Linked DNA regions of Homo sapiens. The protein of the gene in region 1 interacts with the protein of each later gene in a pairwise test. Each region holds a gene or a part of one and is shown on either strand. Other genes may lie near its edges. The genes, in order: ADAMTSL4, ALPP, LGALS14 and HGF.

Region 1 (7,622 bases):
CTTCCCCTGCCCCTCCCAGTGGTCCCCTTTCCCTCACTTCCAGACACAGAGCCATCCCAGCACCTCCCCTTTTCCTCCCCCCCAACCCGTGGCCCCTTCTCTCACCTGCCAGTCCAGTTCTCCATCGCTCCCCCTCTACTGCCCCAGGGGGAGGCAGGAGCGGACTGGTCACAAAAACTACGCAGGCATCTGGGCGTGGAGGGTGCTCTCTGCAGGGACAGAAGCCTGGTGGTTACCTCTCCAGTGTCCAGAGAGCTTGGGGCTGGGAGGACAGCTCAGAGAATATGGAGGAGGGGGTGAAACTGGTCCATCCCTTTAGGATCCTCAGGGTGGGAGCAGGGAGGATCACTGCCTTGTCCATCTGTAGAGGCTACATGGTCAGGGGCTGACCTCAGCCCTCCAACTAAGGCTCAGTCCCCACCTCTGGGCCCTGTAGGGGCTTCTTAGCTCCTCCCCAAATCCTACCTAGGGACTGTTTCTAAGCCGGCTCAGGCACACACAAAAGGCTTTTTTTTTTTTTTTGAGATGGAGATCTCACTCTGTCATCCAGGCTGGAGGGCAGTGGTGCCACCAAAGCTCATTGCAGCCTCAAACTCACAGGCTCTCCTTCCTCAGCCTCCTGAGTAGGTGGGACTACATGCGTGCACCACCACACCCAGCTAATTTTGGTATTTTTTGGTGGAGATGGGATCCAGCTAAATTGCACAGGCTGGTCTTGAACTCCAGGCCTCAAGCGCTTCTCCTGCCTTGGCCTCCCAAAGTGCTGGGATGACAGGTGTGAGCCACCGCACCCAGCCAGAGGGCTCCTTCTAAAATGGTTGTCATCTGCTCCCACTCCTGCCCTCCCAGAGGTGCCTAGAAAGTAGAGGAGGAAGGCTCCACTGAGGATGCGCCAGACACTCTCTCTGAGGACCCACCAGAAGCCCCTTCCTTGGGTCTTCCAGACACAAGACCTTCCCCAGTCATCTCTCTGTCCTACTTGCCTCCCGGCTTTCTCTTCCCTTCTTAGATAAGCTCTTTAGGGAACATCCAGGCACATCTCATACACTTTTTGGCCAAGGGATAAGCTAAATGGGTTGACGGTTTAATCTCTAGAGAAGAAGCCGGCAATGTAACACCCACTCTGGGTGCCAGCATCTGGAGTTGGTTCAGTGAGGGCTTGTTTCCTGTGCGTCTCTACCAGCTGGGGAAGCGGGAAGGAGAGGTGCAGCCGGGGCTGCCTCATGCCCCAGCCACAGGCCTCTCATTCTGAAGAGCCGGGAAGTCCATCTGAAGTTCAGCTTTGAACACTGGAGAAGTGAGGCTTGGAAGCCACCCCAGCCACCAAGCCTGACTCTCTTTGCCCCCTTCTTCTCACTTTGAGTCCTTCCCACCCCTGCTCCTCATCCCACTCTTAGTTCTGCTTTCCAGGAAAAAAAAAATCTGTTTCTGTTGGATCTGAAAGGCACCCGGGAGAGGAATCCAGGGAGCCCTCGCATTGCTGAGGTGGGCCAGCTCTGGGGCAGAAAATGACCAAGAGAAGGGTAGGAATGTGCCTGGGGGCAGACACTCAGCCCCACTGCCCTCCCTGAGACCTAGGGTTCGGAATTTGAGGGAGGGGTCAGAGTGGCTGAGCCAGAGCGGGCGCCTCAGGGATTGGGGTTGGGGTGGGGGTTGCCGATGGCCACTCCTTCCCCTGGCTGGGCCGGCCACTAAGGTCAGCAACTCCACCCTGACTGAACGGGGGAGGCCAGGATCTCCAGAGAAGGGCCCATGTTCCACCCAAGTCTTCAGGCTCTGCCTGACTCTTGTTACTCCAGCTGAGGGAAGAAGAAATGGGGTGATAGTCACTGCCTGCCCCTTCTCTGATGCCGACCCCTCTTCATGCCCTCTCTGCCTCTGCTTCTCTCTGCCACCGAGATCTCTTCTCGCAGCCCCTCTCCACGGGTCTACCCAGTACACATAATCCCATCCCGAGCTGGGTTTGGCTTTGGCAGTTCCCTGGAGAAGTGAGGGGTGGGGGTGACGTGAGCTCCCGGGGCCCGGGCCAGGCCTGGCTCCCTCTCTGGAAAAGTCCCACCCCACCCTCCCCTGCGCAGCCCGGCAGGGGCCCATGCCCCCTCCTCTGCAGAAACACACGCACATTTATGCTTCTCACCCCTTTCCATGTCCCTCATTTGGTGTCGTTCCCGGCCCAGGACGAGGAAAGGAGAGGTCAGAGGTGGTCACTCTGGTGCCAGAGTAGACCCTGGTCTGGACAAACGCGGGCTCCTCCTGGCCACACCTCTCCACACTGCCCAGTGAAGACCAAGGAACAGAGACCTGCGCAGGGCTCACCCCTTCACCCCCAGGTCTCCCTGCTGGAGAGTGGTTGGACCCTGTGTTTCTGGGCCTAGCCATGGAGAATCCCTGTCCTGAGTCCGAATTCCCGGGCCCTCAGAGCCCTCCACTCCTGGGTCTGGCAGGCCACCCCAACAGGTGTCTTTCTTTTTTGTCAACCTCTTCTGCCATCGGGCTGAGCTGGATCAAGGGCACCCACCTGCGTCCCTCGCGGCGACCCTGTCCTCCAAGTTCAGGAGTGCAGTGGGGGACACACCGTCCGAGAGCACCCTCCTAGAGAGAGGGCAGGAGGCACCGGCCGCGCGGGGAGGTCATGGGTCTGTTTTCCAACTTTACTATGTGACTTAGGAGGAATTTTGGTTCACTCCCCGCCCGGGTGATGGGGCCAGAGTTCCACGGGATCAGACTCCCTCCCCAGGAATTCGACCCCAGGGGCTGGAAGATTGTCCGAGGCCACCGGAGCTGGGTCCGGGGTCGTGGCGGGGTCGCGACCGCACAGCGCAGGGAGAGGGGACGACGCGGGCGCGCGGGGCGGGCGGTCTAACGGGACCCGGGAGAGGGGCGGCCGGGGCCGGGGTCCCGGGGAGGTCTCTACCTGCTCTGCGAGCCCCCGGTGGCCCGTTAACCCTTCTGCGCCCAGGCGCTCTCTCCAGGCAACCTCGCTCCGCGGCGGCCACTGGGGCCCCTGAGCCGCGCTCCGGTCACGGCCGCCTCGGCCGCAACTCCGCCCTCGCGCCCGCCCCCGCCCAGCCCCGCCCGCCACGCGCCCCAGCCCGCGCCCCTCGGCGGCCCCGGGGTGGGGCCGGTCTGCCTCGCAGCCCCACTCGCCAGGACCACCCACCCCGGGCTGCGCGCCGGGCGCCCCCCGACGGCTGCGTGAGCTGAAGCCCGGGCTGGCCCAGCCGGGGTCGGAGGCTGCAGTCGCTCCCGGGCGCTGTCCTCGTGCCCGGCCGAGACTAGGGACTTAAGCAGCCCGGGCTGGCCCAGCCGGGGTCAGAGGCTGCAGTCGCTCCCGGGCGCTGTCCTCGTGCCCGGCTGAGACTAGGGACTTAAGCAACCCGGGCCTCCGAGCCGCTCGGGTGAGCGGTGCGAACACGGCGCGGCGCGGCGCGGCACAGGCGGGGCAGCCTCCAGGGGCGCCTGGAGCGAGGCGGCCTGGGAGAGCCGCTGGTCCGGGAGGGAAGCGCCCTGGACGGAGGTACCCGCGGCCCCCGATCCGCGTGGGTCCAGGCTCTCCCCTCCACGCAGCCTCCCCTGCAAACTCAGTCACTCCTGCCTCTCCCGTGTTGGGCAGTGGTGGTTCAGATTGCTGGGACTTCTATGAGCTTCGGTTTTTTTCCTCAGTAAGGTTTTACACTCGGGACTCAGCGAAAGGACAGCGTGCTGACTTCTGAGTCAGACTGATCTGGATTTGAACCTCAGCTCCAGCTCTTGCCAGCTATGTGGTCTTCGACGAATACTTCCACCCCTGTGTGGTGCAGTTTGCTCATCTGCAAAATGGGACTAATCTAATATATATGATGGGCTTGGATATGTCTCTTTATGCATTTATACATGGAAGAATGCACCCCAAACTCAGTAGTATTGGTGACATCTGGGGAGGGATGCAGGGTTGGGGGAGGACTGAAAAAGGCTTTTGCTTTTTACTCTGCGTTATGTTTATTATTATTATATTATTATTTATTTATTTTTTTTGAGACGGAGTCTCACTCTGTCGTCCAGGCTGGAGTGCAGTGGTGCTATCTTGGCTCACTGCAAGCTCCGCCTCCCAGGTTCACGCCATTCTCCTGCCCTAGCCTCCTGAGTAGCTGGGACTACAGGCGTCTGCCACCACGCCCGGCTAATTTTTTGTATTTTTAGTAGAGACGGGGTTTCATCGTGTTAGCCAGAATGGTCTCGATCTCCTGACCTCGTGATCCGTCCGCCTCGGCCTCCCAAAGTGCTGGGATTACAGGCGTGAGCCACCGCACCCAGCTATGTAATGTTATTTTTGTGAATTTTTTTAACCACAAGAGCAATCCATCTATTAGTTTTATCTTTTTTTTTTCTTTTTTTTTTTGAGATGGAGTTTCACTCTTGTTGCCCAGGCTGGAGTGCAGTGGCGCGATCTCGGCTCACTGCAACCTCCGCCTCCCAGGTTCAAGTGATTCTCCTGCCTCAGCCTCCCAAGTAGCTGGGATTAGAGGCATGCGCCACCATGCCTGGCTTATTTTATATTTTTTAGTAGAGACGGGATTTCTCCATGTTAGTCAGGCTAGCCTCCAACTCCCGACCTCAAGTGATCCTCCTGCCTCGGCCTCCCAAAGTTCTGGGATTATAGGCGTGAGCCACCGCGCCTGGCTATTATTTATTATAAATAATATATGTAAGCTGGGCATGGTGGTGAAAGCCTGTAGTCCTAGCTACTCAGGAGGCTGAGCGGGGAGGATTGCTTGAGCCCAGGAGTTTGAGGCTGCAGTGAACTATGATCGTGCCACTGCACTCCAGCCCCTGCGACAGAGAGAGACCTCGTCTCAAAAAATAAACACATAAATAAATAAAATATGTAAAATGGCTGGCATAGAGTAGACAATAAATGGTCACTGCTATTTTTATATTTTACTTTTTTTTTTTTGAGAAGGAGTCTTGTCCTGTCACCCAGGCTGGAGTGCAATGGCGCCATCTCAGCTCACTGCAACCTCTGCCTCCTGGGTTCAAGCCATTCTCCTGCCTCAGCCTCCTGAGTAGGTGGGATTGCAGGCACGAGCCACCACGCCTGGCTAATTTTTTGTATCTTTAGTAGAGATGGGGTTTCACCATGTTGGCCAGGCTGGTCTCGAACTCCTGACCTCATGATCCGTCCGCCTCAGCCTCCCAAAGTGCTGGGATTACAGACATGAGCCACTGCTCCCGGCCTATATTTTTACTTTCTATTTACTGACGCGTTGTATTTTGTTGGGTCTACTCAGTGTTTTAAAGGTTTTTGTTTGTTTGTTTTTTGTTTTTAAGACAGGCTAGTTTCAAACTCCTGGGCTCAAGAAATCCTCCTTCCTTGGGCTCCTAAAATGCCGGGATTACATGTGTGAGCCACTGGGCCCAACCTAAAGGCACATTTTTTTTTTTTAAATAACTTGTCAATACGTATTTTAAAACCTGGATATTTTAAAATTTCTCTTGAAAAACTAAAACACAAAAATAGAAGCTCTAACAACATTGTCCTGCATCCTCACAAAATATCAGAGGTCTTTGGTTCCCCACCTGTCATTTTTTGGGCGCCTTTTGCACTTGGTGTTGAAGAAGCAGCAAGAAGTCTCTGGCCTCAAGGAGTTGGGTCTGATCAGGCACAGACACGGCAGGTAATGGGGTCATGCGAAGGTTAATACTGGGCTCAGCTGAAGGAGATGTTATCTCTAAGAAGATGATGGATATGAAAACGTAAAATGCTTTCAAAATGTAGGAATTGGGCCGGGCGCGGTGGCTCATGCCTGCAATCCCAGCACCTTCGGAGGCCAAGGCGGGCGGATCATCTGAGGTCAGGAGTTCAAGACCAGCCTAGCCAACATGGCGAAACCCCATCTCTACTAAAAATACAAAAATTAGCCGGGTGTGGTGGTGGGCGTTTGTAATCCCAGCTACTCAGGAGGCTGAGACAGGGAGAATTGCTTGAACCTGGCAGGCGGAGGTTGCATTGAGCTGAGATCATGCCACTGCACTCCAGCTTAGGTGACAGAGCGAGACTCTGCCTCAAAAAAATAAAGAAAAGAAAAGAAAATGTAAGAATTGTGTCCCGAGCTGGGTACAATTGCAGGCACCTGTAGTCCTGGCGATTCGGGAGGCTGAAGTGGGAGGATCACTTGAGGCCAAGAGTTCAAGTCCAGCCTGGGCAACATGGCAAGACCCCATATCTAAAAAAAAAAAAAGAAGAAGAAAAAAGAAAGGAGAAAAAGAATTGTATCATTATTTGAAATTTAACATGCATATTTTTTCTCGGTAAATCACTAAGTTCTTTCAGAATAAAGGACTATTTATGCTACTTTGTATCATCTATACTTTTTCCTATTTTATATTAGAGTTTTGTTTTTTTGATAAGTCACTGAAACAACAACAACAACTTGAAAACACGAAGTACACCACGAAACATGAAGCGGGTCAGATTGACCTGCGCCTCTGGGAGGTGCCTCTCCTCATCCTCCATCTGAGTCCTGAGTTCCTACATGGGTTGAGAAGATAAAAGGTTAATGCCCCTCCCAGAGGGGTGGTTTATCTAGGGACTCCTGGTGACAACCTGGAGACATATTTATAGTGCTAGCTTTGAAGGGGAAGCCCCTTTCCCCAGACCTCAGAGTATGATATAGATGATGAGAAGCCCAGCCTTCCGGGCAGAGGAAGATATTTTGGGCCAGGGACCCTTCAGTCCTGGCCCAGTCACACCTCATCAGCATTCACTTATCTACAGGGAGGGAAGCTGCAGGACAGGAGTGTGGGAGGGGAGCCTGGGAGGAGAGAAAAGGTCTGCCTTTGACATTTGTAACTGCTGAGAACTGAAGGTCAGATACAGTCCTTTCCACTAAGAAATGGCTGCTCACCGAAGAGCTCATGAGATTTGCTACTGCTGTCACCTCTCATGGCTTGGTGGTCTGAAAATATTGTAGAAAGAAAAGAGTTTCCTATGCCTCAGCAACTTGTGAAATACCAGATTAAGTTTGTGGACACTGTCTCCAGGATAAAAAGTTTTTAGGCTGGGTGCGGTGTCTCACACCTGTAATCCCAGCACTTTGGGAGGCTGAGGTGGGTAGATTGCTTAAGCCCAGGAATTTGACACCAGCCTGGGCAACATAGCAAGACCCTGTCTCAAAAATAAACAAATACATAAATAATTTTTAAAAAGAAGTTTTTAAGGCCGGGCACTGTGGCTCACACCTGTAATCCCAGCACTTTGGGAGGCTGAGGTGGGCGGATTACCTGAGGTTGGGAGTCCAACACCAGCCTGACCAACCCTGTCTCTACTAAAAATAGAAAAGTAGCCAGGCGTGGTGGCGCATGTCTGTAATCCCAGCTACTTGGGAGGCTGAGGCAGGAGAATCACTTGAATCTGGGAGGCGGAGGTTGCGGTGAGCTCAGATTGCACCATTGCTCTCCAGCCTGGGCAACAAGAGTGAAACTCCGTCTCAAAAAAAAAAAAAAAAAAAAAAGAGAGACGTTTTTAAAAAGATTATGTAATAAGTAGATGTTCATCCAGCCTGTAATCCCAGCACTTTGGGAGGCCGAAGTGGGCAGATCGCTGAGGTCAGAAGTTTGAGACCAGTCTGGCCAACATGGTGAAA
Region 2 (7,715 bases), on another chromosome or scaffold:
GAGACTTACAAACAGAAGCTATGTCTGGGTCTCAGGTGGCAGTGAGACAAGATGGTAGCTTTACCCCCCAAGACCAAGGGCCACAGGGGAGGGGTGACCTCAAAGGGATGTGTAGGACAATTGAAATATGATAACATCAAAGTTGTTTTGTCCTAAGGGCAGGATTTATGGGAAGTAGGTGCTCCCGCACTAGAAACACGACATGAATGGGAAATCTCAGAGGCCCTCCGAGAACTGGCATTCATCAACCTGGTAGATCAGGCCCCAAGATGGAATTGCCTTGACACCCACACCACCTGAAATAATCTGGAGTACTGTTGGCAGCTGATGTGAGACTTTGGTTCTTGTCTTCTTAGCTTAAAATAATTTAAACAAGAGACACAACAGCAAAGGAGATGCAGCATACAATAATTTTTGCAAAAGAAAAAGAACATCTTGAAAGTGAAGTGCAGAATAGGCAGAGAGAAGAATTCAGGGCAGGCTGCTCATAAAGATGAGACAGCAAAAGTTGGCACTAGGGAGGCTCCCTTTATGGAAATCTTACATGATTATTCATGAGGGGTTGGGAAGAGGTGTTGCTAGTAAGCATGTTCTGGCCAAAAGCTATTAAAAGAAAAGGAGTGTCAAAAAATTTAGGCCGTGCTGGGGGTGGAGGCTCACACCTGTAATCACAGCACTTTGGGAGGAGAGGCTTAAGCCCAGGACTTCCAGACCAGCCTGGGCAACATGGTGAAACCCCATCTCTACCAAAAATGCAAAAATTAAATGGGCAAGGTGGCACACACCTGTAGTCCCCACTACTCGGGAGGCTGAGGTGGAAGAATCTCTTGGGCCCAGGAGGTTAAGGCTGCAGTGAGCCGTGATTGCCCCACTGCACTCCATCCTGGGCTACGGAGCAAGACTCTGTCTCAAAAAACAAAGTCAATGGTTCCCTTTGGTGGGGAAGGAAGAAGTGGGGTTTGAATGGGGGGCAGGGTACATATGGGGAGATCCTGGCTGTAGTCAATTTCTTGATCTGAGTGGTATTACTTTGGCGTTCAATTCTGTAACTCTTCTTTAGGCCATATCTTTCTGTTTTCTGCAGTTTTAATGTTTGACATATCTCAAAAGGAAAGAAAGAAAAGGAAGGAACAAGCTTGCCATTTGATCCAGATTAGATGCAACTGTTCCAGCTGCGTTTTCCATTTTCATCTCAGCCAGTATTTTTCAAAATGTGACATGCACGTATTTCCAAAGGGCGGTACTGAAACAGGATAGGTAATCAAGGAAGTGACCGTGTTCTTGGGATGCAGCAAGCGTGGTGACCGCACAGTCAACACAATAAGCCTCAGCATTCGAATTGTAATTGAGCTCATTCAAGCAAAGCTATCTTCAGTGGGGACTTTTCTTTCTAGAGAGCATGCGCATTTTGATTTTACCTATCCTCAAACTGACCCTTTGCTCATTATAATAGTAAAAAGCGCACCCCGGGTGGAGATTTAAGAAGCTAATGAGACCTGCGACATACGAGCCAGCATGTACAGCTACTCACGCCTGTAATCCCAGCGCTTTGGGAGGCCGAGGTGGGCAGATCACTTGAGGTCAGGAGTTCGAGACCAGCCTGGCCGACATTGTGAAAACCCATCTCCGCTAAAACTACAAAAATCAGCCAGGCGCAGTGGCTTACGCCTGTAATCCCAACACTGTGGAAGGCCAAGGCAGGTGGATAGCCTGAGGTCAGGAGTTCGAGACCAGCTTGGCCAACATGGTGAAACCCCATCTCCGCTAAAAATACAAAATGAGTCAGGTGTGGTAGCAGGTGCCTGTAATCCCAGCTACTCGGGAGGCTGAGGTGGGAGAATCCCTTGAACCTGGGAGGCGGAGCAGTGAGCAGAGATCTCACCAGTGCACTCCAACCTGGGCGACAGAGCGAGATTCCGTCTCTAAAACAAGTAAATAAACAAAAATAAAAAAATAAAAATACAAAAACTAGCTGGGCGTGCTGGCGGGCGCCTGTAATCCCAGCTACTCAAGAGGCTGAGGCAGGAGAATCGCTTGAACCTGGGAGGTGGAGGTTGCAGTGAGCTGAGATTGCGCCACTGCACTCCAGCCTGGGGGACAGAGTGGGACTCCATCTCAAAAAAATAAAAATAAATAAATAAATTAATTAATTAATTAATAAAATAAAATAGAAACAGGGTCTTGCTATGTTGCTCACTATGTGGTGAATTTTTTCAGGTGCTGAGCAAGACTGGAGACCAGACACACACCAATGTCACTTGCAGTAAACAAAGGATATTTGTCCACATTCAAAGTCTATGGTGACACCCTGGCCACATGGGGATGCTTGGCCACCCTGCCTCCTACCTTCATGCCAGAGTCGCCTGTCATAATGTCTGGTTACAGCCCTTCCTCTGAGGTCCAGGGATTTCAAAGCAGAAGCAGCAGGTCTTCCCCGGCTGGAGGAAGAGCCAAAGCCTCCATTCCTGGGATTCTTGGTTGCTGTTACCTGGGGCAAGGGGAGGCCCAGGCTGTGGCGTGTATTCTCAGAGGATTGGTCGTCTTGGTCCTTCTGTTTCCTGGGAAGGAAGGGCTGGTCCTGTAGGGCCCCATCTAGATCCCTTAGCACCCTCTACCACCTGATGCCCTTGGGGATACCAAGCTCTGTGCAGTCCAGACCATGTTCCAGCTCAGTGCCCACCTTACAGGCATGCGCCACCATGCCTGGCTAATTTTGTATTTTTTAGTAGAGATGGGGATTATCCATGTTGGTAAGGCTGGTCTTGAACTCCCGACCTCAGGTGATCCACCTGTCTTGGCCTCCCAAAGTGGCCGGGCAGGGCTGAATTCGCCCCCTCACCAGCTACTGCCAACCACGGATGAATGGCTTCTGCCTGCCTCCTGCCCTCCAGATCTTACCAGGGCATTTCACTGGGAAATATGGCAACAGCCCTTGCCACTCAGGGGACAGCATGGCAGGGGCTGGGAACGAATGTTGTTGCCAAACGACAAGACCCAGCTGGGCCCAGTGGCTCACACTTGTGATCCCAGTGGTCTGAGAGGCTGAGGCAGGAGGATCACTTGAAGCCAGGAGTTTGAGAGCAGCCTGGGCAACACAGTGAGACTCTACAAAACAAAACAAAAAAAATTAGCCAGGCATGGTGGCTGGTGCCAATAAGCCCAGCTACTGGGGAGGCTGAGGCTAAGGCTGAGGCAGTGAGCCATGATCATGCCACCGCAGTCCAGCCTGGTGACAAATGAGACCCTGCCTCAAAAAAAAAAAAAAAAAAAAAAGAGGAAGGTGAGCGCAGTGGCTCATGTCTGTAAATCCAGACACTTTGGGAGGCTGAGGTGGAGGTTCGAGACCAGCCTGGGCAACATAGCAAAACCATGTCTTTACACAAAATAAAAAATGAGTCAGGTGTGGTGGCACATGCCATTGGTGCCAGCTACGTGAGAGGCTGAGGTGGGAAGATTGCTTGAGCCTGGGAGGTCCGAAGCTGCAGGGAGCCGTAACTCAGGCATCACACTCCAACCTGGCTGACAGAATGGGACCCTGTCTCCAAAACCAAAAGATTCCAGCTCGAAAAATAATTGTGGGGTGGCGGCAAAAGCTCCTGACTGGCCTTGACTTTAGAGTGAATCAATGAATTAATTAAGGGCCTGCCTGTTAGTGAGTCTCCTCTGAAATTTAGCCCAGAAATTTCCTAACTCAGCAAGATGAAGCAGGAGGTAGAAGGAACTAAGGGGGCAATAAGCAGGAGGAAGGAATGTCCCCATGAGGGTGACATCTTCCCTGAGAGCCCCAGGACGACCAGCAGGAAGCCAGGCGGGGGGCAGGCAGGAGGACTCCAGAAAGCTCGGCCTGAGGGGAGGCCCGTGGGGGTGGTGGGGAGTGGTGCGGGGAAGGCAGAGGCTGAGCAGCAGGTGAGGTCCCCTGGGTTTTGGGGGCCAAGCCTGGGGCTCGGGGCGAGCAAGCATGAGTGGAGAAGGGGCTGCTGTGGTTGGGCTGGGGTGGACTCCCCACCTGCGTCGTCCAAACATTAGTGTGAGTGCACCCACACAAACACATACACAATCACACACAACATGTGAGCAATGGGCAGGACTGGTCCGGCCCCACTCAGTGCTGTCACCATTGGCCCCACAGCTGCCCACAGCCCTAGAGCTCTGGGCCCAGATTCCTGCCAGCCCCACCTGTCCAGGCCAAGGTAAGATGATGGAGCAAGGGGGTGCCAGGGCAGCAAAGCCCCCCACGTGCCCCTTTCCCACAGGGCCCAGGCTCCTGGCATCAGGAGGCTGAACCCAGGCCCTGGCCCAGACTGTGTGCTTCCAGCCTCCCCTCCTCTCGACACCAGAACACAGCCTGGCCCCAGCTTCTGGGAAATATAGAAAAAAATGGGTGAATGATCCAGTGACAGGGTGTCTTGTTCCACACAAGACACAGTGAGCAGGGGTTGGGGGAGGGGCTCCTGGCTGCGGGAGGCACACCACACTCACCCAAATGGCATCTGTACTCAATACCGCACCCTTCCCTGGGGGACACCTGGTCCCAACCTGAGCTGCCTTTCTCAGGACCCCAGCCCCAGCCCGGCCCAGCCCAGCCACACCCTGCCACTCCCTTCAGCCAGTGTGGCTTCAGGTCAAGAGGCTGGGCAGGGTCAAGGTGGCAACGAGGGGAGAAGCCGGGACACAGTTCTCCCTGATTTAAACCCGGGCAGCCTGGAGTGCAGCTCATACTCCATGCCCAGAATTCCTGCCTCGCCACTGTCCTGCTGCCCTCCAGACATGCTGGGGCCCTGCATGCTGCTGCTGCTGCTGCTGCTGGGCCTGAGGCTACAGCTCTCCCTGGGCATCATCCCAGGTAATGAGGCTCCCCGAGCTGCCCCTACACAACACACACACAGGGCACCCCCCAGCCCAGGCTGACCTGATTTTTGCTCTCCCCCTGGCCAGTTGAGGAGGAGAACCCGGACTTCTGGAACCGCGAGGCAGCCGAGGCCCTGGGTGCCGCCAAGAAGCTGCAGCCTGCACAGACAGCCGCCAAGAACCTCATCATCTTCCTGGGCGATGGTGAGTGAGCCAGGCCTTCCAGCCCTGCAGCCCTCACAGCCCCGGCGCCCGGACCCTCAGTGGTTCCAGGAGAGCCCTGGGGCCCAAGCCTCACACATTTCTGTTCCTTCAGGGATGGGGGTGTCTACGGTGACAGCTGCCAGGATCCTAAAAGGGCAGAAGAAGGACAAACTGGGGCCTGAGATACCCCTGGCCATGGACCGCTTCCCATATGTGGCTCTGTCCAAGGTAAGTGCTGGGCTACCTTAGAGTCCTCCAAGCACAGAAGGGGAATCCTGGCTATGGAGTGTGGTAGGAGGGAGGGACCCTAAACAGCTGGGGCTCCAGTAAGGAGTTAGAGGCAGTTGGAATCCCAGAGGACAGAGATCAGGGTCTGGGTCTCCGTGTCTGCCCCAGAGAAGAGCTCAGAGTGTCTCTGTCCCCAGACATACAATGTAGACAAACATGTGCCAGACAGTGGAGCCACAGCCACGGCCTACCTGTGCGGGGTCAAGGGCAACTTCCAGACCATTGGCTTGAGTGCAGCCGCCCGCTTTAACCAGTGCAACACGACACGCGGCAACGAGGTCATCTCCGTGATGAATCGGGCCAAGAAAGCAGGTGAGCTGGGGCCCGCTGCTGGGTCACGGCCAGGTCACAGACGTTGGTCACATATACTGACCTCTGACACCCTTAGGGAAGTCAGTGGGAGTGGTAACCACCACACGAGTGCAGCACGCCTCGCCAGCCGGCACCTACGCCCACACGGTGAACCGCAACTGGTACTCGGACGCCGACGTGCCTGCCTCCGCCCGCCAGGAGGGGTGCCAGGACATCGCTACGCAGCTCATCTCCAACATGGACATTGACGTGCGACCCCCAGGCCAAGGGCTGGGGCTGGGCAGAGAGTAGCAGGGAGGGGGCACTAGCTCAGACCCAGGCAACCAAAAGCCTTATCTGGGCCAGCAGGGTCTGGAGGTGGGGTTGTGGGCGTAGAAGGTGCAGCCCAGGCTGGGCCATTCCCACAGCCTTGGGGAGGGGAGTCAGGGGCTGTGCATGAGGAGGGGGCACGGGGCCAGCCAGGGCCCCAAATCCACCTGCCCCATCCTCTGTTCCCAGGTGATCCTAGGTGGAGGCCGAAAGTACATGTTTCGCATGGGAACCCCAGACCCTGAGTACCCAGATGACTACAGCCAAGGTGGGACCAGGCTGGACGGGAAGAATCTGGTGCAGGAATGGCTGGCGAAGCGCCAGGTGATGGGGGCTGGCGGGTGCAGGGGGCACAGCAGGGGGAGGGCAGAGGTGTGGGGCTCAGGGCTGTGGGCTGAGGCCTGGCTCTCTCCCTCCCCACAGGGTGCCCGGTATGTGTGGAACCGCACTGAGCTCATGCAGGCTTCCCTGGACCCGTCTGTGACCCATCTCATGGGTAATGACCCCCTTCCTGCCCTGGCATCCCTCAGATGGCCTCAGATGGCACCTTCTGAGCCTGTGTGCACATCCGCCAGCACCCGCCCACCCCCAGCCTGCCAGTCACCACAGGACCCCTTGTCCCACAGGTCTCTTTGAGCCTGGAGACATGAAATACGAGATCCACCGAGACTCCACACTGGACCCCTCCCTGATGGAGATGACAGAGGCTGCCCTGCGCCTGCTGAGCAGGAACCCCCGCGGCTTCTTCCTCTTCGTGGAGGGTGCGTGGTGGCCCCTGGGGAGTGGGGGTTGGGGGTTGGAGCAGGGCAGGCTCAGCATCTCCCCCCTCTGGCCTTCCTGCAGGTGGTCGCATCGACCATGGTCATCATGAAAGCAGGGCTTACCGGGCACTGACTGAGACGATCATGTTCGACGACGCCATTGAGAGGGCGGGCCAGCTCACCAGCGAGGAGGACACGCTGAGCCTCGTCACTGCCGACCACTCCCACGTCTTCTCCTTCGGAGGCTACCCCCTGCGAGGGAGCTCCATCTTCGGTAGGCCTGGGGAGAGTGGCAGGTGCTGCTGCAGCAATTAAGTGGGTGAAATCTGAGCCTCAGTCTCCTCCTCTGTCAAATGGGAGTAATGCTGGCACCAGCCCTGTAGGGTCTCCTGAGGACTAAGCCCCTGACCAGGCAAAACGTGGCGGTGCCTAGCACGTGGGAGACACTCCACAGCTGTGTTCAGCTCAACCACAGGGACCCCTCTCTCTGCAGGGCTGGCCCCTGGCAAGGCCCGGGACAGGAAGGCCTACACGGTCCTCCTATACGGAAACGGTCCAGGCTATGTGCTCAAGGACGGCGCCCGGCCGGATGTTACCGAGAGCGAGAGCGGTGAGTGCCGCGGGGTGGCCCCCTGAGGGGGACCAGGGTGCCAAGGATGGGGGGCTGGCGGGAAGGGGTCACCTCCTGTCTGCCTGGAACTGAATGAACCCTCCTACCGGAACTGAACCCTCCAACCAGGGAGCCCCGAGTATCGGCAGCAGTCAGCAGTGCCCCTGGACGAAGAGACCCACGCAGGCGAGGACGTGGCGGTGTTCGCGCGCGGCCCGCAGGCGCACCTGGTTCACGGCGTGCAGGAGCAGACCTTCATAGCGCACGTCATGGCCTTCGCCGCCTGCCTGGAGCCCTACACCGCCTGCGACCTGGCGCCCCCCGCCGGCACCACCGACGCCGCGCACCCGGGGCGGTCCGTGGTCCCCGCGTTGCTTCCTCTG
Region 3 (7,230 bases), on another chromosome or scaffold:
GGGCCCCAAGGGACTGGTGGCACCAGGTCAATGAAAGCTGCCTCCTGCTCTAAGAGCCCACAGAGCTCCAGCGCTGGAAGATCCTGAAGTACTCACCTTGTATTCCTTGTGACGCACATAGATGCACAGCTCAAATGGTTTGCCATCTTCAAAGGGTAAATAGTAGCATTTCTCCTCATATCTCCATATGCCAAACACACAACTGTTCATGATTGCAGGATGACCAAAGTGCAGTCGGAATTGGAAAGCAATATCTGAGTCCTCATCCATCCCAGTGTAGAAATTCACCTCCAGCTGTGGGTCCTTGCTGAGGTCAAAGCACACAGCATGTTGGGCAGGTCCCCCCATTGTGCAGACACACACTCGCCACACACACAAATCCCTTCCCCCCTTTACCCAGGGCAAAAAGTCTCCCCGATGATACTGCAGTCCTGGTCCCTGTGGGGACGCTTTAGCTCCTCATGCCCCCAGGCAGGGAGATGCTGTGTTCCTCATCCCCAGACAAAAACTGAGCGCCAGTCAGTGACATGGGCCTATGACTTGTTCATTTCCTGAAAATTCTATGCCCTTTAATAAAGAGCCACAACCCAAACCCACTGAGTGTTCTCCTCCCCTAGGTTCCGTGGCTGGCCTGCATGCAGTTTCTACAGGTCTCATGTCTGTTGCTGGAAGGTCTCCAGGGCCTGCACTTGCATGAGGCCTTCATTATGCCAACTAGAGTTTTCCACATCACTCACACATAAGGTTAAACCCTTAGCAAATATTCTCCCTTCTCTCCTCCACCCCCTCCATTGGACCATGGAGTACTCACACAAAAGTGAGGATCGGTGTCCCTGTGATTATCACGCACGAACCAACAGGCAAGGAAACAGGCAGTGTGTATGGTACCTGCCAGGGTATGGAGAGTGAGTGAGAGCTAAAGGGTAAGGTGTAACCTCCCCTATGTAACAGATTCCCATGGTGCAGGAGGTTAGAGATCAAAGGTCAGACTCTGAGGCCTCTCCCCTTTCACCCTACCACAGTCAGGGCCCCATATTCCTGAAGATATGGTGGATCCATAGGTAAGAGCAATTGTTCAAGAGCCCGGATGCCTGGATTCCAGTCCTCATTTTGCCTTATACTAGCAGTGCAATCTTAGATCTATTACTTAACCTCTCCCTGCCTCAGTTTCCCCAGGACAAGGAGGACTATCAGGAATTCCTACTTTGTAGGGTGTTCTCAGTAATAGAGGAGTTAATATAGGTAAAACTTTTACCCTAATCCCTGGCATGTATAGGGTCAATTAGGGGTGACCTAACAGAACAGGGGAGTCCTCCTGAAACACTGACCTGCCTTATTTTCAACTCAGAAAATGAAAACAAGACTTGAGGGTGAAAGAATTTAAAAATTCACTCCAGTGAGAAACAACACTTGTTGAAAGAGAAAGGGAAATGACGAAAGAACAGGAAACCCCTGTGTGTGGGATGTACACGCACCACAATCATCAAGGGCAATGGACGTCCTTCCCAGAAGCGGCACACATTACTGACAGCACAGCCCCAGTACTTGCACAAATGAAGCCTGTGGGTCAGGGACATAACTGGAGGGAATGATTGATTTCTACGACGACTGCAAGTGGTTGATGATTTTTCTGTATTTTTGAGATAGGGTCTTGCTCTGTCACCCAGGCTGATATGCAGTGGTGCAATCACAGCTCACTGAAACATCGAACTCCTGGACTGCAGTGATCCTCACACATCTGCCCCCTCTTGTGTAGCTGGGGTGAAAGGTGTCTGCCACTCTGCCAGTCAGATATTTAAAGATTTTTAAAGAAAGCATATCACTATGATGCCTAGACCGGTCTCAAATTTCTGGCCTCAAGTTACCCTCCCATCTTTGCCTCCCAAATTGGTGGGATTATAGTCATGAACCAGTGAACCCAGCTGCTTTGTTGAGTAATGTCCACAGTAAGCACTGTCTGAATTCAGACAGCTTGTTCTTTCATGAGTGGAGGAACAAGTTTAGTCTCAGTTCAGACAGAGCTTACAGTGGATATTTTGTTTGATTCCGTCTCTTTAACCACGGCCTCTAATATTCTTCCCTGGCAAATCAGTATCTTCACACTCGCCTGTTCCACAATGGGAAGAACAGGCTGGGCTAGCGACAGGGAAGCTGAGCCTGGGAGGCAAAAGCCAGTGATCACTCTGTGCAGTCCCCACCTGAGGAACCATCTCTCCCATAATCTGCGTTCCTTTTCCTCACTCTTACTGGGAAGAGATATCTACTGATGATATATTTCGCTCTCATAAGTGATCTGAAACGAGTCCTTGGTAACTCACAATCCCCAAGATCCCCACCAGTTAAGCCACTTGGGATCCACATTGCCACACATGAAAAGACACACAGGTGCTTCATCAGAGGTGCTGCTGTGTGGGGAGGAACCTTCACATGCACAGAAGGCCACGTGCATGTTTTCCCTTCAATACCCAGTCACATCCCAGCACACACACCCATAGTCACACAGAGCCATGCCACTCACTGAGTTACACACACCTGCTCACTGTGCACATAAAGATGACCATGCACTGGTCTGGCTGTGCCCACACACACTCACATCACAGACAGGAAGACAAAGCACACTCACCCCCTTACACTCACTCACACACTTGCCGGTCCTGGTGGGTCATCCACCTCCCACCTAAAGTCACTTAATCTCAGCAGAGTTCACTCTCATCAGACACCACCACACCCTCACAGAGGGTTACACTGGTCCAGGGTCCACAGCCTACACCCACAATCATCTCAGATACCACAGCCTCAGGGTTTCTCTTCTACACACCCACAACTCTCGGTAATGCATTCACAGTAGGAATGCTCATATTTTCAACTCAGAAAACCTCCCCTGTTTCTTTCTTGGTTTATGTGACTTGAGATTATTGAAGGCTGTGACTTTTCAACTCACGGGTAGTGATGACATTGTTCTCTCCTTCTGGGCAGCTCTTCGGAATTGTGTCCAGTCTTCTGTGTGAATCTCTGAGTGGGATCATTTAAATGCTGCAACTCAGAGATGCCCTTTGGCTTCATGCCAGATTCCAAGCCCCTCCCAGCAAGCTTTCCGTGCAGCAGGAGAAAGACTCAGGTGTCAGAAAGAAACTCTGTCACAACCATAGATGTTTGCAGGTCTGTGTCTGTAATGCAGCAGAAATGACAGTGGGGGAGGTACCAGGCTGTGGATTGGGTTACCAGGGAAATGCATAGATAAGGATGATGGAGTGAGGGGTAGGGATTGTAAAGCCCAGCCTTTGTGCCTCTCAAGCTTTTTCTCCAGTATGCAGAATCTAGCCAGAAGGTGTACATTTCCTCAATTTGTACAATGACTAAAAATAAAAAATTGGGAATTTTGGAAAAAGACGTTAGACCTAGAAGGTAATTCTTCTCTTTGCCTTTAAAGGTTCTGGGAGGGCCTTTAAGGGTCAGATCCTTTTGACCTTGATCCTCAGGAGGATCTGGGAAGAGAAGTAGAGATAGTTCTTGCATGAACCTGCCTCACACTAGGCCCCTTGGATCTGCCAGGTGAGGGTCACTCTCATCTGTCTGTCACATACCTGGGCTCTAGCTGCATTCTCTGCTTTGTCTTGGAGTCCATGTAAAACAAAGTTTCAGAGATATTGTTTCTCCTGCAGATTCTGGGAGAAAGATGAGATTTTTTTTCTTTTTTCTTTTTTTTTACTTTTATTATAGGTTCAGGGGTACATATGCAGATAAAGTCATGTCATGAGGTTTGTGGTACATATGATTTCTTCACCTGGGTACTAAGCGTAGTACCCAATAGTTATTTTCTCTGCTCCTATCTCACCTTTCACCCTCCAACCTCAAGTAGGCTTCTGTGTGTGTTGTTCCCCTATTGGTGTCCATGAGTCTCATCATTTAGTTCACAATTATAAGTGAGAACATGCAGTATTTGGTTTTCTGTTCCTGCATTAGTTTGCTAAAAATAATGGCCTCCAGCTCCATCCATGTTCCTGCAAAAGACATGAACTCATTCTTTTTTAGGGCTTCATAGTATTCCATTGTGTATATGTATCACATTATCTGTATCCAATCTGTCCTTGATGGCATTTGGGTTCATTCTGTGTCTTTGCTATTGTGCACAGTGTTGCAATGAACATTCATATGCATATGTCTTTAAGGCAGAATAATTTCTATTCTTCTGTGTATACAGTAGTGTATACACCATTCCCAGTAATGGGATTGCGGGGTTTAATGGTAGTTCTGTTATAAGCTCTTTGAGGAATCACCACACTGCTTTCCACAATGGGTGAGCTAATTTACACCACCGCCAATAATCTGTAAGTGCTCCTTTTTCTCCACACCCTTGCCAGCATCTGTCCTTTTTTGACTTTTTAAGAAGAGCCATTCTGACTGGTGTGAGATGGTATCTCATTGTAGTTTTGATTTGCATTTCTCTAATGTTCAGTGATATTGAGCTTTTATTATATACTTGTTGGCCACCTGTATGTGTACTTTTGAGAAGCGTCCCCTGTCTCTACTAAAAATACAAAATATTAGCCGGGCCGGTGGCGGGCGCCTATAGTCCCAGCTACTCAGGAGGCTGAGGCAGGAGAATGGCATGAATGCGGGAGGGAGAGCTTGCAGTGAGCCAAGATCATGCCACTGCATTCCAGCCTGGGGGACAGAGTGAGACTTCATCTCAAAAAAAAAAGAAAAGAAAAGAAAAGAAAAGTATCTGTTCTCTGTTCTTGTCTTTTCTCGCCTTTTGTTGTTGTTTTAAGACAGGTCTCACTCTGACATTCAGGCTGGAGTGGTGTGGCTCCATCTTGGCTCACTGCAACCTCTGGCTCCTGGGCTCAGGTGATCCTCCCAGCTCAGTATCCTGAGTAGCTGGTACTGCATACCAGCTGTGCAGACCTCACCTAAGGGACCAGTACCCCCGTAGTCTGTATTCCTCTTCCCCACACTTATTGGAAAGAGACACCTACAGATCATACATTCTGCCTTTAAATTGTTCTTTTTGCCTTTAAAGATTCTGGGACAGCACTGCCCTTGATCCTCAGGATGATCCGGGGGGGAGGTAGAGAACGTCCTTGCATGAACCTGCCCCATGCTAAGCCCTTTGGCTCTACCAGGTGAGGGCTGCTCTCATCTGTCTGTCCCACACCTGGACTCTAGCAATACTCTCTCCTTTCTCTTGATGTCCATGTGAATCAAAGTTTCAGAGACACTGTTTCTCCTGCAGATTCCAGAAGAAAGGTGACATTGGTTTTTTTCTTTGTTTTTTAAACGTTTATTTTATGTTCAGGGGTACATATGCAGGGAAACTCGTGTCATGGGGTTTGCGGTAAAGATTATTTCACATCCAGGTACTAAGCCTAGTACCCAATAGTTATTTTTTCTGCTCCTGTCTCACCTTTTACCCTCCACCCTTAAGTAGGTCTCAGTGTGTGTTGTTTCCCTCTTGGTATCCATGGGCCTCATCATTTAGCTCACACTTCTAAGTGAGAACATGCAGTATTTTGTTTTTCATTTCCACATTGGTTCACTAAGGTTAATGACCTCCAACTCCATCCATGTTCCTGCAAAAGTCATAATCTCATTCTTTTTTGAGGCTGCATAGTATTCTATGGTGTATATGTACCACATTTTCTCTATCCAGTCTGTCCTTTATGAGCTATTAGGTTGAGTCCATGTTTTTGCTATTGTGCATACTGTTGTAATAAACATTCATGTGCACGTTTTTATGGTAGAATGATTTATATTCTTCTGGGTATATACTCAGTGATGGGATAGCTGGGTTGAATGGTAGTTCTATTTTAGCCATTCGAGGAACCATCACATTTCTTTCCACAATGATTAAACTAATTTACACTGCCACCAAAAATGTGTAAGTGTTCCCTTTTCTTCACAAACTTGCCAGTTTCTGTTATTTTTTGACTTTTGAATACTAGCCATTCTGACTGGTGAGAGATGGTATCCCATGGTGGTTTTGATTTGCATTTTTCTAACGTTCAGGGCTGTTGAGCTTCTTTTCATATGCTCGTTGGCCACATGTATGTCTTCTTTTAAGAAGTATCTGTTCCTGTTCTTTGTCTACTTTTTTTGAGACAGCCTGGTCTGACACCCAGGCTGAAGTGCAGTGGTGAAATCTCGTCTCACTGCAACCTCTGCCTGGGCTCAGGCGATCCTCCCAGCTCACCTTCCTGAGTCCCTGAGATTACAGGTGCCTGAGACAAGACTCAGCTAATTTTTCTATTTTTCATAGAGATAGGGTTTTGCCGTGTTGCCAAAGCTGGTCTTGAACTTCTGGACTCAAGCAATCCACCTACCTTAGCCACCCAAAGTGCTGGAATTACAAGCGTGAGCCACTGCACCCAGCCCTTTGCCCACTTTTTTATGGGGTTGTTTGTTCTTTTCTTGTAAAGTTGTTAAAGTTCCTTATAGAAGCTAGATATTAGACAATTTTCAGATACATAATTTGCAAATATTTTCTCCTATTCTGTAGGTTGTCAGTTGACTCTGTTGATAGGTTCTGTTGCTGTGCAGAAGCTCTTTAGTTTAAATAGATCCATTTGTCAATTTTTGCTTTTCTTGTGATTGCTTTTGGCATCTTTGTCAGGAATCTTTTGCCTATTTCTACATTCGGTATGGTACTGCCTAGGTAGACTTCCAGGGTTTTTATAGTTTTGGGTTTTACATTTAAGTCTTTAACCCATCTTCAGTTGATTTTTCTATATAACGCAAGAAAGTGGTTCAGGTTCAATCATCTGCACGTGGCTAGCTAGTTATCCAAAAATTATTTCCATTGCTTGTTTGGTCAACTTTGTCAAAGATCAGATTGCTGTAGGTGTGGGACCTTACTTCTTGCCTCTCTTTTCTGTTCCATTGGTCTATGTGTCTGTTTTTATGCAAGTACTATGCTGTTAGGTTACTCTGGCCCTATAGTGCAGCTTGAAGTTGGGTAATGTGATGCTTCTAGCTTTGTTCTTTTTGCTTTGGAATATCTTTTATTCAACCCACTCGGTTCAATTAATATTTAAAATATTCATTTTAAAATAGATTGTTCTAATTCTGTGAAGAATGTTATTGATAGTTCAATAGGAATACCATTGAATCTGTACATTTCTTTGGGCAATGTGGTTGTTTTAATGATAGTTATTCTTGCTATCTGTGAGCATGGAATGTTTTTCCATTTGTTTGGGTCTTCTCTACTTTTTTAAGCAGTGTTTTGTAATT
Region 4 (7,563 bases), on another chromosome or scaffold:
CTCACGTACGTTCTTACAAGCATCACTTGTGGAGAAACCTGGGCTTAAGACAAAGAAAGATACCGTGTTAAAGCAGCAGCCTTTTAAAGAGCACAGTAATAGAGGCTTTTCCATTAAATCCATCTAGTATCCATGAGATACTAGAACCCTCAATCATAGGACAGATTTAAAATGGTATTATAGGGTAATGAGTATCCATCTAGTATTTAAGTATTTACATAAATTGCAGTACTTAAAGTAATCTCTTTACAAGTTATTTTATCAAAAACTTTTCAGACACAATTTTTTGGGGATTTATTCAAACTGTTTAACACTTAAGAAGTACTGGCTTACCTTGGAGATACTGCTCGTTTGGTTTCAGACCACTGTGATCAAGCAAAAATCGCAATAAAGCAAGTTACATGAATTTTTTTTTCGTTTCCCAGTGCATATAAAAGTTACACAGCAGACTATTAAGTGTGCAACAGCATTATGTTTAAAAATGTCCATACCTTAACTTAAAAATACTTTATTGTTAAAAAATGCTAACGATCATATAAGCCTTCAGCGAGTGATAATCTTTTTGCTGATGGAGGGTCTTGCTTGATGTTCAGAGCCTTGCTGTGGCTTTGGCTTAAGGCTTAAGGGAATATTGCAGCTGGTTTGATCTTCTATCTAGACTGCTCAAATTTTCTGCATATCAGCAATAAGGCTGCTCTGCTCTCTTATCATTTGTGTGTTCACTGGAGTAGCACTTCTAACTTGCTTCAAGAACTTTTCTTTTGCATTTGCAACTCGGATAACTGGTGCAAGAGGACTGGCTTTTGACCTAACTCATCTTTGGGCATGCCTTTCCCCAAAAGCTTAATTTATTTCTAGCTTTTGATTTCAAGGAAGAGACGCGCAACTCTTCCTTTCACTTGAGTACTTAGAGGTCATTGCAGGGCTATCAATTGGCCTAATTTCAATAATGTTGTGTTTTAGGAAATAGAGAAGCCTGAGGGGAGGGAGAGAGACGGGTGAACAGCTCGTCAGTGGAGTAGTCAGAATACACACATGAATGGATTAAGTTTGGGTTGTGGTTTGTGGTGCCCAAAACAATTATGGCAGTAACATCAAAGATCACTGATCACAGATCATCATGTAAAATAATAAGGAAATATTTGAAATATTGCAAGAATTACCAAAATGTGACACGGAGACACAAAGTGAGCACATGCTGTGGGAAAAACGGCACCAACAGACTTGCTCAATTCGAGGACACCACAAAACTTAATTTGTAAAAACACATTATCTGTGAAGTACAATAAAGTGAAGGGCAATAAAATGATGTATGCCTATGTAAGGCAATCAGTAGATGATGGGAAAAAAACATTGCATGATTTAGAAAAAACAAAGAGAATATGTTATCAAAATGACTAAACTAATAGCATAATTAGAATTTCATTTGAGTATTTCTTTATAGTTTTGAGAGATTTAAAATTATGTATTATTTTATAAATTATTATGGAGGATCTCCTATATACCCAGTCTCAGACTTATTTTGGTGATTATACTCTGGAACATGTGATTCTTCTCCTCGTGGGGTTAAAAAAATTTATACCATCCTATGGGGTATGACTAATCTGAATCTCACACTTGAATATTACTTTGGGATCTTAGGCAAGTTATTTAAGAATAAAAATAACTTACTATGTTTCCTCAACTATAAAATGAGAATTTTAATAATCTTAAACTTACTGTAAGGATGAAATAATTTTCAATAGTATGTAATATGATGCTTAGCATACATTAAGATCTCAGTGTATATTAGCAACAATTTCAGTAAAGAAAGACCAAATAATTTTTGTCAAGAAATATGAATATATAAATTATATAGGTTTTAAGTTGTATTTACCATATTTAATGTGACAGTAAAAAAAGTCACGAAAATGTGTGACCTAATAAGTTTATTCAGTTTTCTAATGTCCTGAACCCCTTATCTCAGATGGATTTTGCTCCAAACTTATAACAATAATTTACAACCCTGACTCTAGTTTTTTTTTCTGAGAGAAAAAAATAAATAGAAACACTGTTCTTTTTCTTTCCTTACCTACAGGAATTTACTTACAGAAAAATCTAACTTCTTTTAAAAACAGCCTTAATCCCTTGTTGGGCCAAGGGAAAACTTTTCCATTGTTCTCTGAAGGTTTGCTAAAAAAAAAATTACTGTCAAGAGGCAGATCAATAGAAGAAAAGGCATACACATTTATTTGATCATAATTTTACACAACCCGAGAGCCTTTAGAACAAAGACCCAAAGTTACAAAAGAAATTGTCCATTTTTATGCTTAGGTTCAACAAAGTGTGGGCAGGTGTGGAGAAATACAACTGGACAAAAGGAATATGATCTCATGCTAACAGACTGAGTGGGGACGCCTGGCAAGGTGAGATTCTTCCTGGTATCTCTGTGCAGTACTCATTCCTTCTGGGTATGGGGCAGGACCTTCTTTGGAATGGGGTCTTATGAGCTACGATCAAACAAGGTAGGTCAGATAATGTCTTTATGGCCAGATTTCACACAGAAAGTTGAGGTGTTAGAGTGATATGCTTAGGTTTTATGGCTGGTTTGGGAAAAAGGGTTCTGGTTTCTAGGAGCCACCTTGGGAAAGAGGGATTCTAGTTTCTATGCCTCGCCTTGGGGGAGAATGAAGGGCCGGAGACTGGAGAGCAGGAGAAGGTCAGAGAGAGCTGATTCTGAGGTCTTCATTTGGGGTATCATTTTTCTGAGCCCCTACACCCTAATAAAGCACAAGAGATGCAGTGGAGCAATTCAGGGTCACGGTCAGGCTATGCATTGAACTGAGATTTCCCAAAAAGTCTACTGAACAGTAAAAAGAAAGTAAAATGGATCCTGGGGACACCAGACAGAGGCTGACAAATGATTTTTAAGTAAGGAGAAAATGATAAAAGAGAAGGATTAGCAATAGAAACGGGTCATATAAAATAGATCCCTCAAAAGGAATTCTCTTAATCCCTAGCTTCTCTAGATATCCCACAACCTCAGGGACTTATCAGGCAGGTTGTTTTTCCCTGAAAGTGGGGGTAAGGGAGCTGGAGGACAAATGAAGGTGGTATGTGGAGGGAAGGCTGTTCTGTGGATGAGTTTAATTCAGCCCCACAATCACTTCTGTACAGCTACCCACCGCTCTAGTCATTCCCACATTTGGCCTGCTTTCTTTTCCTCTGTGGACAGGGGCACTGTTCTCTACTAATATCCATCTCAGAGAGATACAGGGGCAAGTATCCCTCAGCATCCATTAGAAATAAAGCAGGCTCTTGCTTAAAGTTACCAGAGCATCCACCTCTGGGTGCAAAGACAAATTCTCTGAATCAAGTGAGGGGTCTGGGCAATGATCTCACAAGGATTTGATACCTAGGAGTCCCCCCATGCCCATACAAGCTCCTCATCTTTCCACTTACACTTTGGGAAGCTGGCTGTCGTGTACAGGCAGATGAAGCTGGAAAAGAGAGGCATATTCAGTACTCACGAATTCAAACAGCTTGAGGGATTTCCGGTGAAAGTCAGTCCTAACCAGTGTATACGTACATACACACCAACATGTGTGAATGTGTTGTGTGCACGTGTGTGCCTGTACAAGTCCACATGGCATATTTACCTGTCAGGGACAGGCTATGGACAATGACTGTTTCTTGGACTTTCTCTTAAAAAGTCAGATCAGACAAGTTTATTTTGTATACTTTGGGTAAATGTGTGGTATTTCGTGAGTTTGGCAGTTTGTGAAAAAAAAAAAAAAAAAAAAAAAAAAAAAAAGCTGCCTGCTCTGAGCCCATGGGGCAGGGGCAATTTTTTCATCTGACAATCTGCGTGCTTTTGTTTTGCTTGCTTATTTTGGCCCCACAATACCACACCCTTTTCTTAACTAACCTCTTTCTACCTGGGCTGGACGTGCCTGGGCTCTCCTCCCTGGCCCCGCTCCCACCTCTCCCAGGTCTCTAAACCCCTAGAGAACCTGTGTCAGTGTTTTGAATCCCTCAGTTGCTCTAGCAGGAAAACTAGACAGATTAGGAGCTGGGGCACATTTGGCTGAAAGACAGCTCTTCGCTTTCTTCTTATGCTGCTTCCCCTTCCTCTTTTCCCAAATAGATATATAAACACATGTATTTTCCTGTTTAAATTGAGCGAATTGGTCCCCTGCCTGTGCCTTGATTTAGCCATTGGGCTCAGCCTTGCTCCTCCCTTCCTTACTCGGATAGGAGCCACTGGGATCTGGAGCTCCAGCTTCCAAATTGAAGCTGGCCTCAGGCCAGGTGACCTTTTCTTTGTAAGTTTCTTTCCTAAGCGTGGGGTTGGGGGGAGGCGGGGAATGGGGGGGGTTGCAGGGATCTGTTTGGTGCTGTTGAAGGGGGGGCGAGTGAGGAAAGGAGGGGGCTGGAAGAGAGTAAAGGGCTGTTGTTAAACAGTTTCTTACCGTAAGAGGGAGTTCAGACCTAGATCTTTCCAGTTAATCACACAACAAACTTAGCTCATCGCAATAAAAAGCAGCTCAGAGCCGACTGGCTCTTTTAGGCACTGACTCCGAACAGGATTCTTTCACCCAGGCATCTCCTCCAGAGGGATCCGCCAGCCCGTCCAGCAGCACCATGTGGGTGACCAAACTCCTGCCAGCCCTGCTGCTGCAGCATGTCCTCCTGCATCTCCTCCTGCTCCCCATCGCCATCCCCTATGCAGGTTAGTTCCCTTCTTCTTCTTCATTATTAGTATTAGTATTTAACTCTCCTGCTAACCTTCCCTATTCCTTTTAACACCCTCTTTTTACCCTATTCCCAGCATCCTTTCTGAACTCAGTATGTAGTATAGGTTTCTAAAAGCTCTCATTATGCTTTTTTTGACATTCTTTTTTGTTGTTGTTTGAATAGCATTTAAAATGATAATTAACTTTCCCTCAACTCCCCTCCACCTCCAACCCAAGCCCCGTCCCACTTAGCCTAATAGTTGTGGATTATGAGATAGGGAGGAAGTGCTAATACTGGCTGAACTTGGCTGCTTTGGACAAGTTTAAAGCTAAAGAGAGGGTCTGGTCTGAAGAGGCAAGAGTGATGGTCAGTCCGGCAGGAAGTCATCCTTTTCCAGAGAACAATTTTTCATGATAATGCACTACTCCACATCACCTAGTCAACATTTGGAGCCAAATTACGACTTTGTACAGGTTTTCATTTTGAGGAGGCAGAATAAACTCTGAGTATTTGCATATCATAAAAATGAAAGAGAAAGCCTCTTTTTAAAGATCTTATTCTTTCTGGGTACGGATGCCTGCCCTTTGAAACTGCAGTGCACGGAGACTTTGATTAAAGCTGCAGAACTGCCCATCTCTGTCTCCCACTTTCTCCCTTGGATTTGCCGTTTGGGGAGGAGTTGCTTGAAAGTTCATATTGCTTGGAGATTTAGAGATCTCGTTTGCTGCTCTGGGAAGTTTCTCTTGTTATCAGGGCAAGAGGAAACATCTGTATTTTGTTGTATCATTGTAGAGGCTGAGGTGCCAACGGGAGAAGGCAGTGAATATCAAGGGTAGGCGCAGGGGAATAAAAGAGTGGGAACAAATGCCCAGATGGAGACATGGCCTTTTTACAATATAAAAAAGAGAACTGGCTGTATCTTTTGAGATGGTAAATATGACATTTATCAGACCTTTGATCTAGTTTTTGATATGGTACAAGGGTTAAAAAACTCAAGAATTTTCTAAATGCAAAGGAAAATCATTCAACCCACCTGGTTTTCTTTTATTTTGTGAAGTGGCCCGTTTGGAAAATGACACTGTTTGGAAAGGGTCACTCTGAAAGCATTTAGGTAAGATTTCTGAAGAAGTGAAAAAGCAGTGAGTTCAAATCAAGCAGGTTATCATGCTTGACATGTGTCATGTTAAAATCGCTTCACAGGGTCGGGTGCGGTGGCTCACGCCTGTAATCCCAGCACTTTGGGAGGCCGAGGCGGGCAGATCACGAGGTCAGGAGATTGAGACCATCCTAGCTAACAAGGTGAAACCCTGTCTCTACTAAAAATACAAAAAATTAGCCAGGCGTGGTGGCAGGCACCTGTAGTCCCACCTACTTGGGAGGCTGAGGCAGGAGACTCTCTTGAACCTGGGAGGTGGGGGTTGCAGTGAGCCGAGATTGTGTCACCGCACTTCAGCCTGGGGAACGGAGCAAGACTCCATCTCAAGAAGAAGAAGAAAAAAATGCTTCACAGATGACTGCTGGTTTAGGGGATTTTGAGCTTAAATTGAAATAATGGCTAATATTTTGAGGGTTTTCATTTTTAAAGATTAAAATGTCACTGTTCTTAAGTAGAATCTGGTTACCTGAATTCATCTGTGCTAACGCAAGGGGAACGCAGTGTGGAAAACCCAAACAGTAGATCAACCGTAGGCAGTGTCTATTTGTTTTCGGCATGCATTATGAACTTTTGGCAGGAGACATACATTTGTAATTATATTTCACTTTGCCTAATGTAGAAATGACTGTGTTTCCTGAGTACAGGCAGAATGCAGCCCAAGAGTGCTGGCAGGCAAGGAGAGTCCAGTTGGGAATTACAAATATGCTGTGAATAATTCCTGAAGTGGATAATTCTAAAATTGTCATCAAAGGAGGGTGCGCCTTTGTTTAGATGGCCAGTTTGATAGTTTTTTTTAATAACCTTTAAAATAAAAAATATGGGTAGCCTCTTAGAACACACAAAGTTTGTTCTTTTTTAAATGACATTTAATATTGACTATTTAGAGGTTTCTTTTGTTGTTACTAGCTTTGATTATAATTATTTATTCTATGAATTTATATTTGTATGTATTGTAAAATAACACATTGTTAGGAAAGAAGTATATACTGTAAGTTGACAACCAGTTATCAACAGAATACACTATGGAGATACTTTTTTAAAAGCTTAAGAAATATTCAATATAATGGGCCCCCGCCATCTTTGTAGGAGTTAGCCTATATAGAATTACCCTCTATTCACTCCCACCTACATGGGAAACAAATATCCAATCCTCTGTAATAAAAGAAGCATTAAATGAGCACCTAATATTCAAGAGTATGTGGGGGATGTAAAGATGAACAAATAAGAAAGGAACTTAAATTTGTTGAGCAACTGATATGAACCAAGTAGTAAAGTACATCTCACTTAATTCTAATAAGATTGGCACTATTGGACTCATTTAGCCGGTTCAAAGACCTCAGTTATCTTATTTCTTTGTGAGTTAAGGGACAGAGCTGAGATTTCTACCCAAATGTATGTGAATGAACTATGTGGTGTTTTTTTTTTTTCTTTTTTCATTTATATTGAAGCGAGCAGCAGTGAAATCAACTGAAATTTACTTAAAAAAAATCATTTGGCCAAGTGATATATTTTCAAAAAACCCTGTTAGAAATACTTTGTACTATGGTTGAGAGTTCATTTTCAGCATAGAGAATCAAACCAGGTGAAGGGGTTATATGGTACTGAAGTCCATATGAAAAGATGGATGGTAGAATAGTCAGTATCTTAGCACAGGATCACAAGTGGCCCAAGGTACAGAGGTTCGTAAGTAT

Evidence for each region.
Region 2: the proteins of ADAMTSL4 (region 1) and ALPP interact in binary tests that used the Homo sapiens proteins (3 or more experiments, as listed by UniProt).
Region 3: the proteins of ADAMTSL4 (region 1) and LGALS14 interact in binary tests that used the Homo sapiens proteins (3 or more experiments, as listed by UniProt).
Region 4: the proteins of ADAMTSL4 (region 1) and HGF interact in binary tests that used the Homo sapiens proteins (3 or more experiments, as listed by UniProt).

The regions. Positions count from the first base shown.
Region 1 is NC_000001.11:150,544,792-150,552,413, reverse strand, and holds the start of ADAMTSL4 (ADAMTS-like protein 4 isoform 1 precursor), read right to left. Parts: upstream 3,007-7,622; 5' UTR 2,915-3,006; intron 2,593-2,914; 5' UTR 2,519-2,592; exon of another isoform or gene 2,138-2,518; intron 2,125-2,137; coding exon of another isoform or gene 1,354-2,124; exon of another isoform or gene 1,138-1,353; coding exon of another isoform or gene 1,123-1,137; exon of another isoform or gene 210-1,122; coding exon of another isoform or gene 126-209; coding exon 106-125; intron 1-105. Other genes in the region: uncharacterized protein LOC124904417, read right to left, coding at 1,354-2,124. UniProt on the Homo sapiens protein: Positive regulation of apoptosis. May facilitate FBN1 microfibril biogenesis.
Region 2 is NC_000002.12:232,374,036-232,381,750, forward strand, and holds the start of ALPP (alkaline phosphatase, placental type preproprotein), read left to right. Parts: upstream 1-4,715; 5' UTR 4,716-4,767; coding exon 4,768-4,843; intron 4,844-4,909; exon of another isoform or gene 4,910-4,935; coding exon 4,936-5,052; intron 5,053-5,164; coding exon 5,165-5,280; intron 5,281-5,477; coding exon 5,478-5,652; intron 5,653-5,728; coding exon 5,729-5,901; intron 5,902-6,150; coding exon 6,151-6,285; intron 6,286-6,384; coding exon 6,385-6,457; intron 6,458-6,587; coding exon 6,588-6,722; intron 6,723-6,804; coding exon 6,805-6,996; intron 6,997-7,215; coding exon 7,216-7,332; intron 7,333-7,461; coding exon 7,462-7,715. UniProt on the Homo sapiens protein: Alkaline phosphatase that can hydrolyze various phosphate compounds.
Region 3 is NC_000019.10:39,700,255-39,707,484, reverse strand, and holds the start of LGALS14 (placental protein 13-like), read right to left. Parts: upstream 3,005-7,230; 5' UTR 2,957-3,004; coding exon 2,942-2,956; intron 1,781-2,941; exon of another isoform or gene 1,578-1,780; coding exon of another isoform or gene 1,476-1,577; intron 889-1,475; coding exon 812-888; intron 308-811; coding exon 97-307; intron 1-96.
Region 4 is NC_000007.14:81,767,032-81,774,594, reverse strand, and holds the start of HGF (hepatocyte growth factor isoform 1 preproprotein), read left to right. Parts: upstream 1-4,547; 5' UTR 4,548-4,623; coding exon 4,624-4,711; intron 4,712-7,563. UniProt on the Homo sapiens protein: Potent mitogen for mature parenchymal hepatocyte cells, seems to be a hepatotrophic factor, and acts as a growth factor for a broad spectrum of tissues and cell types.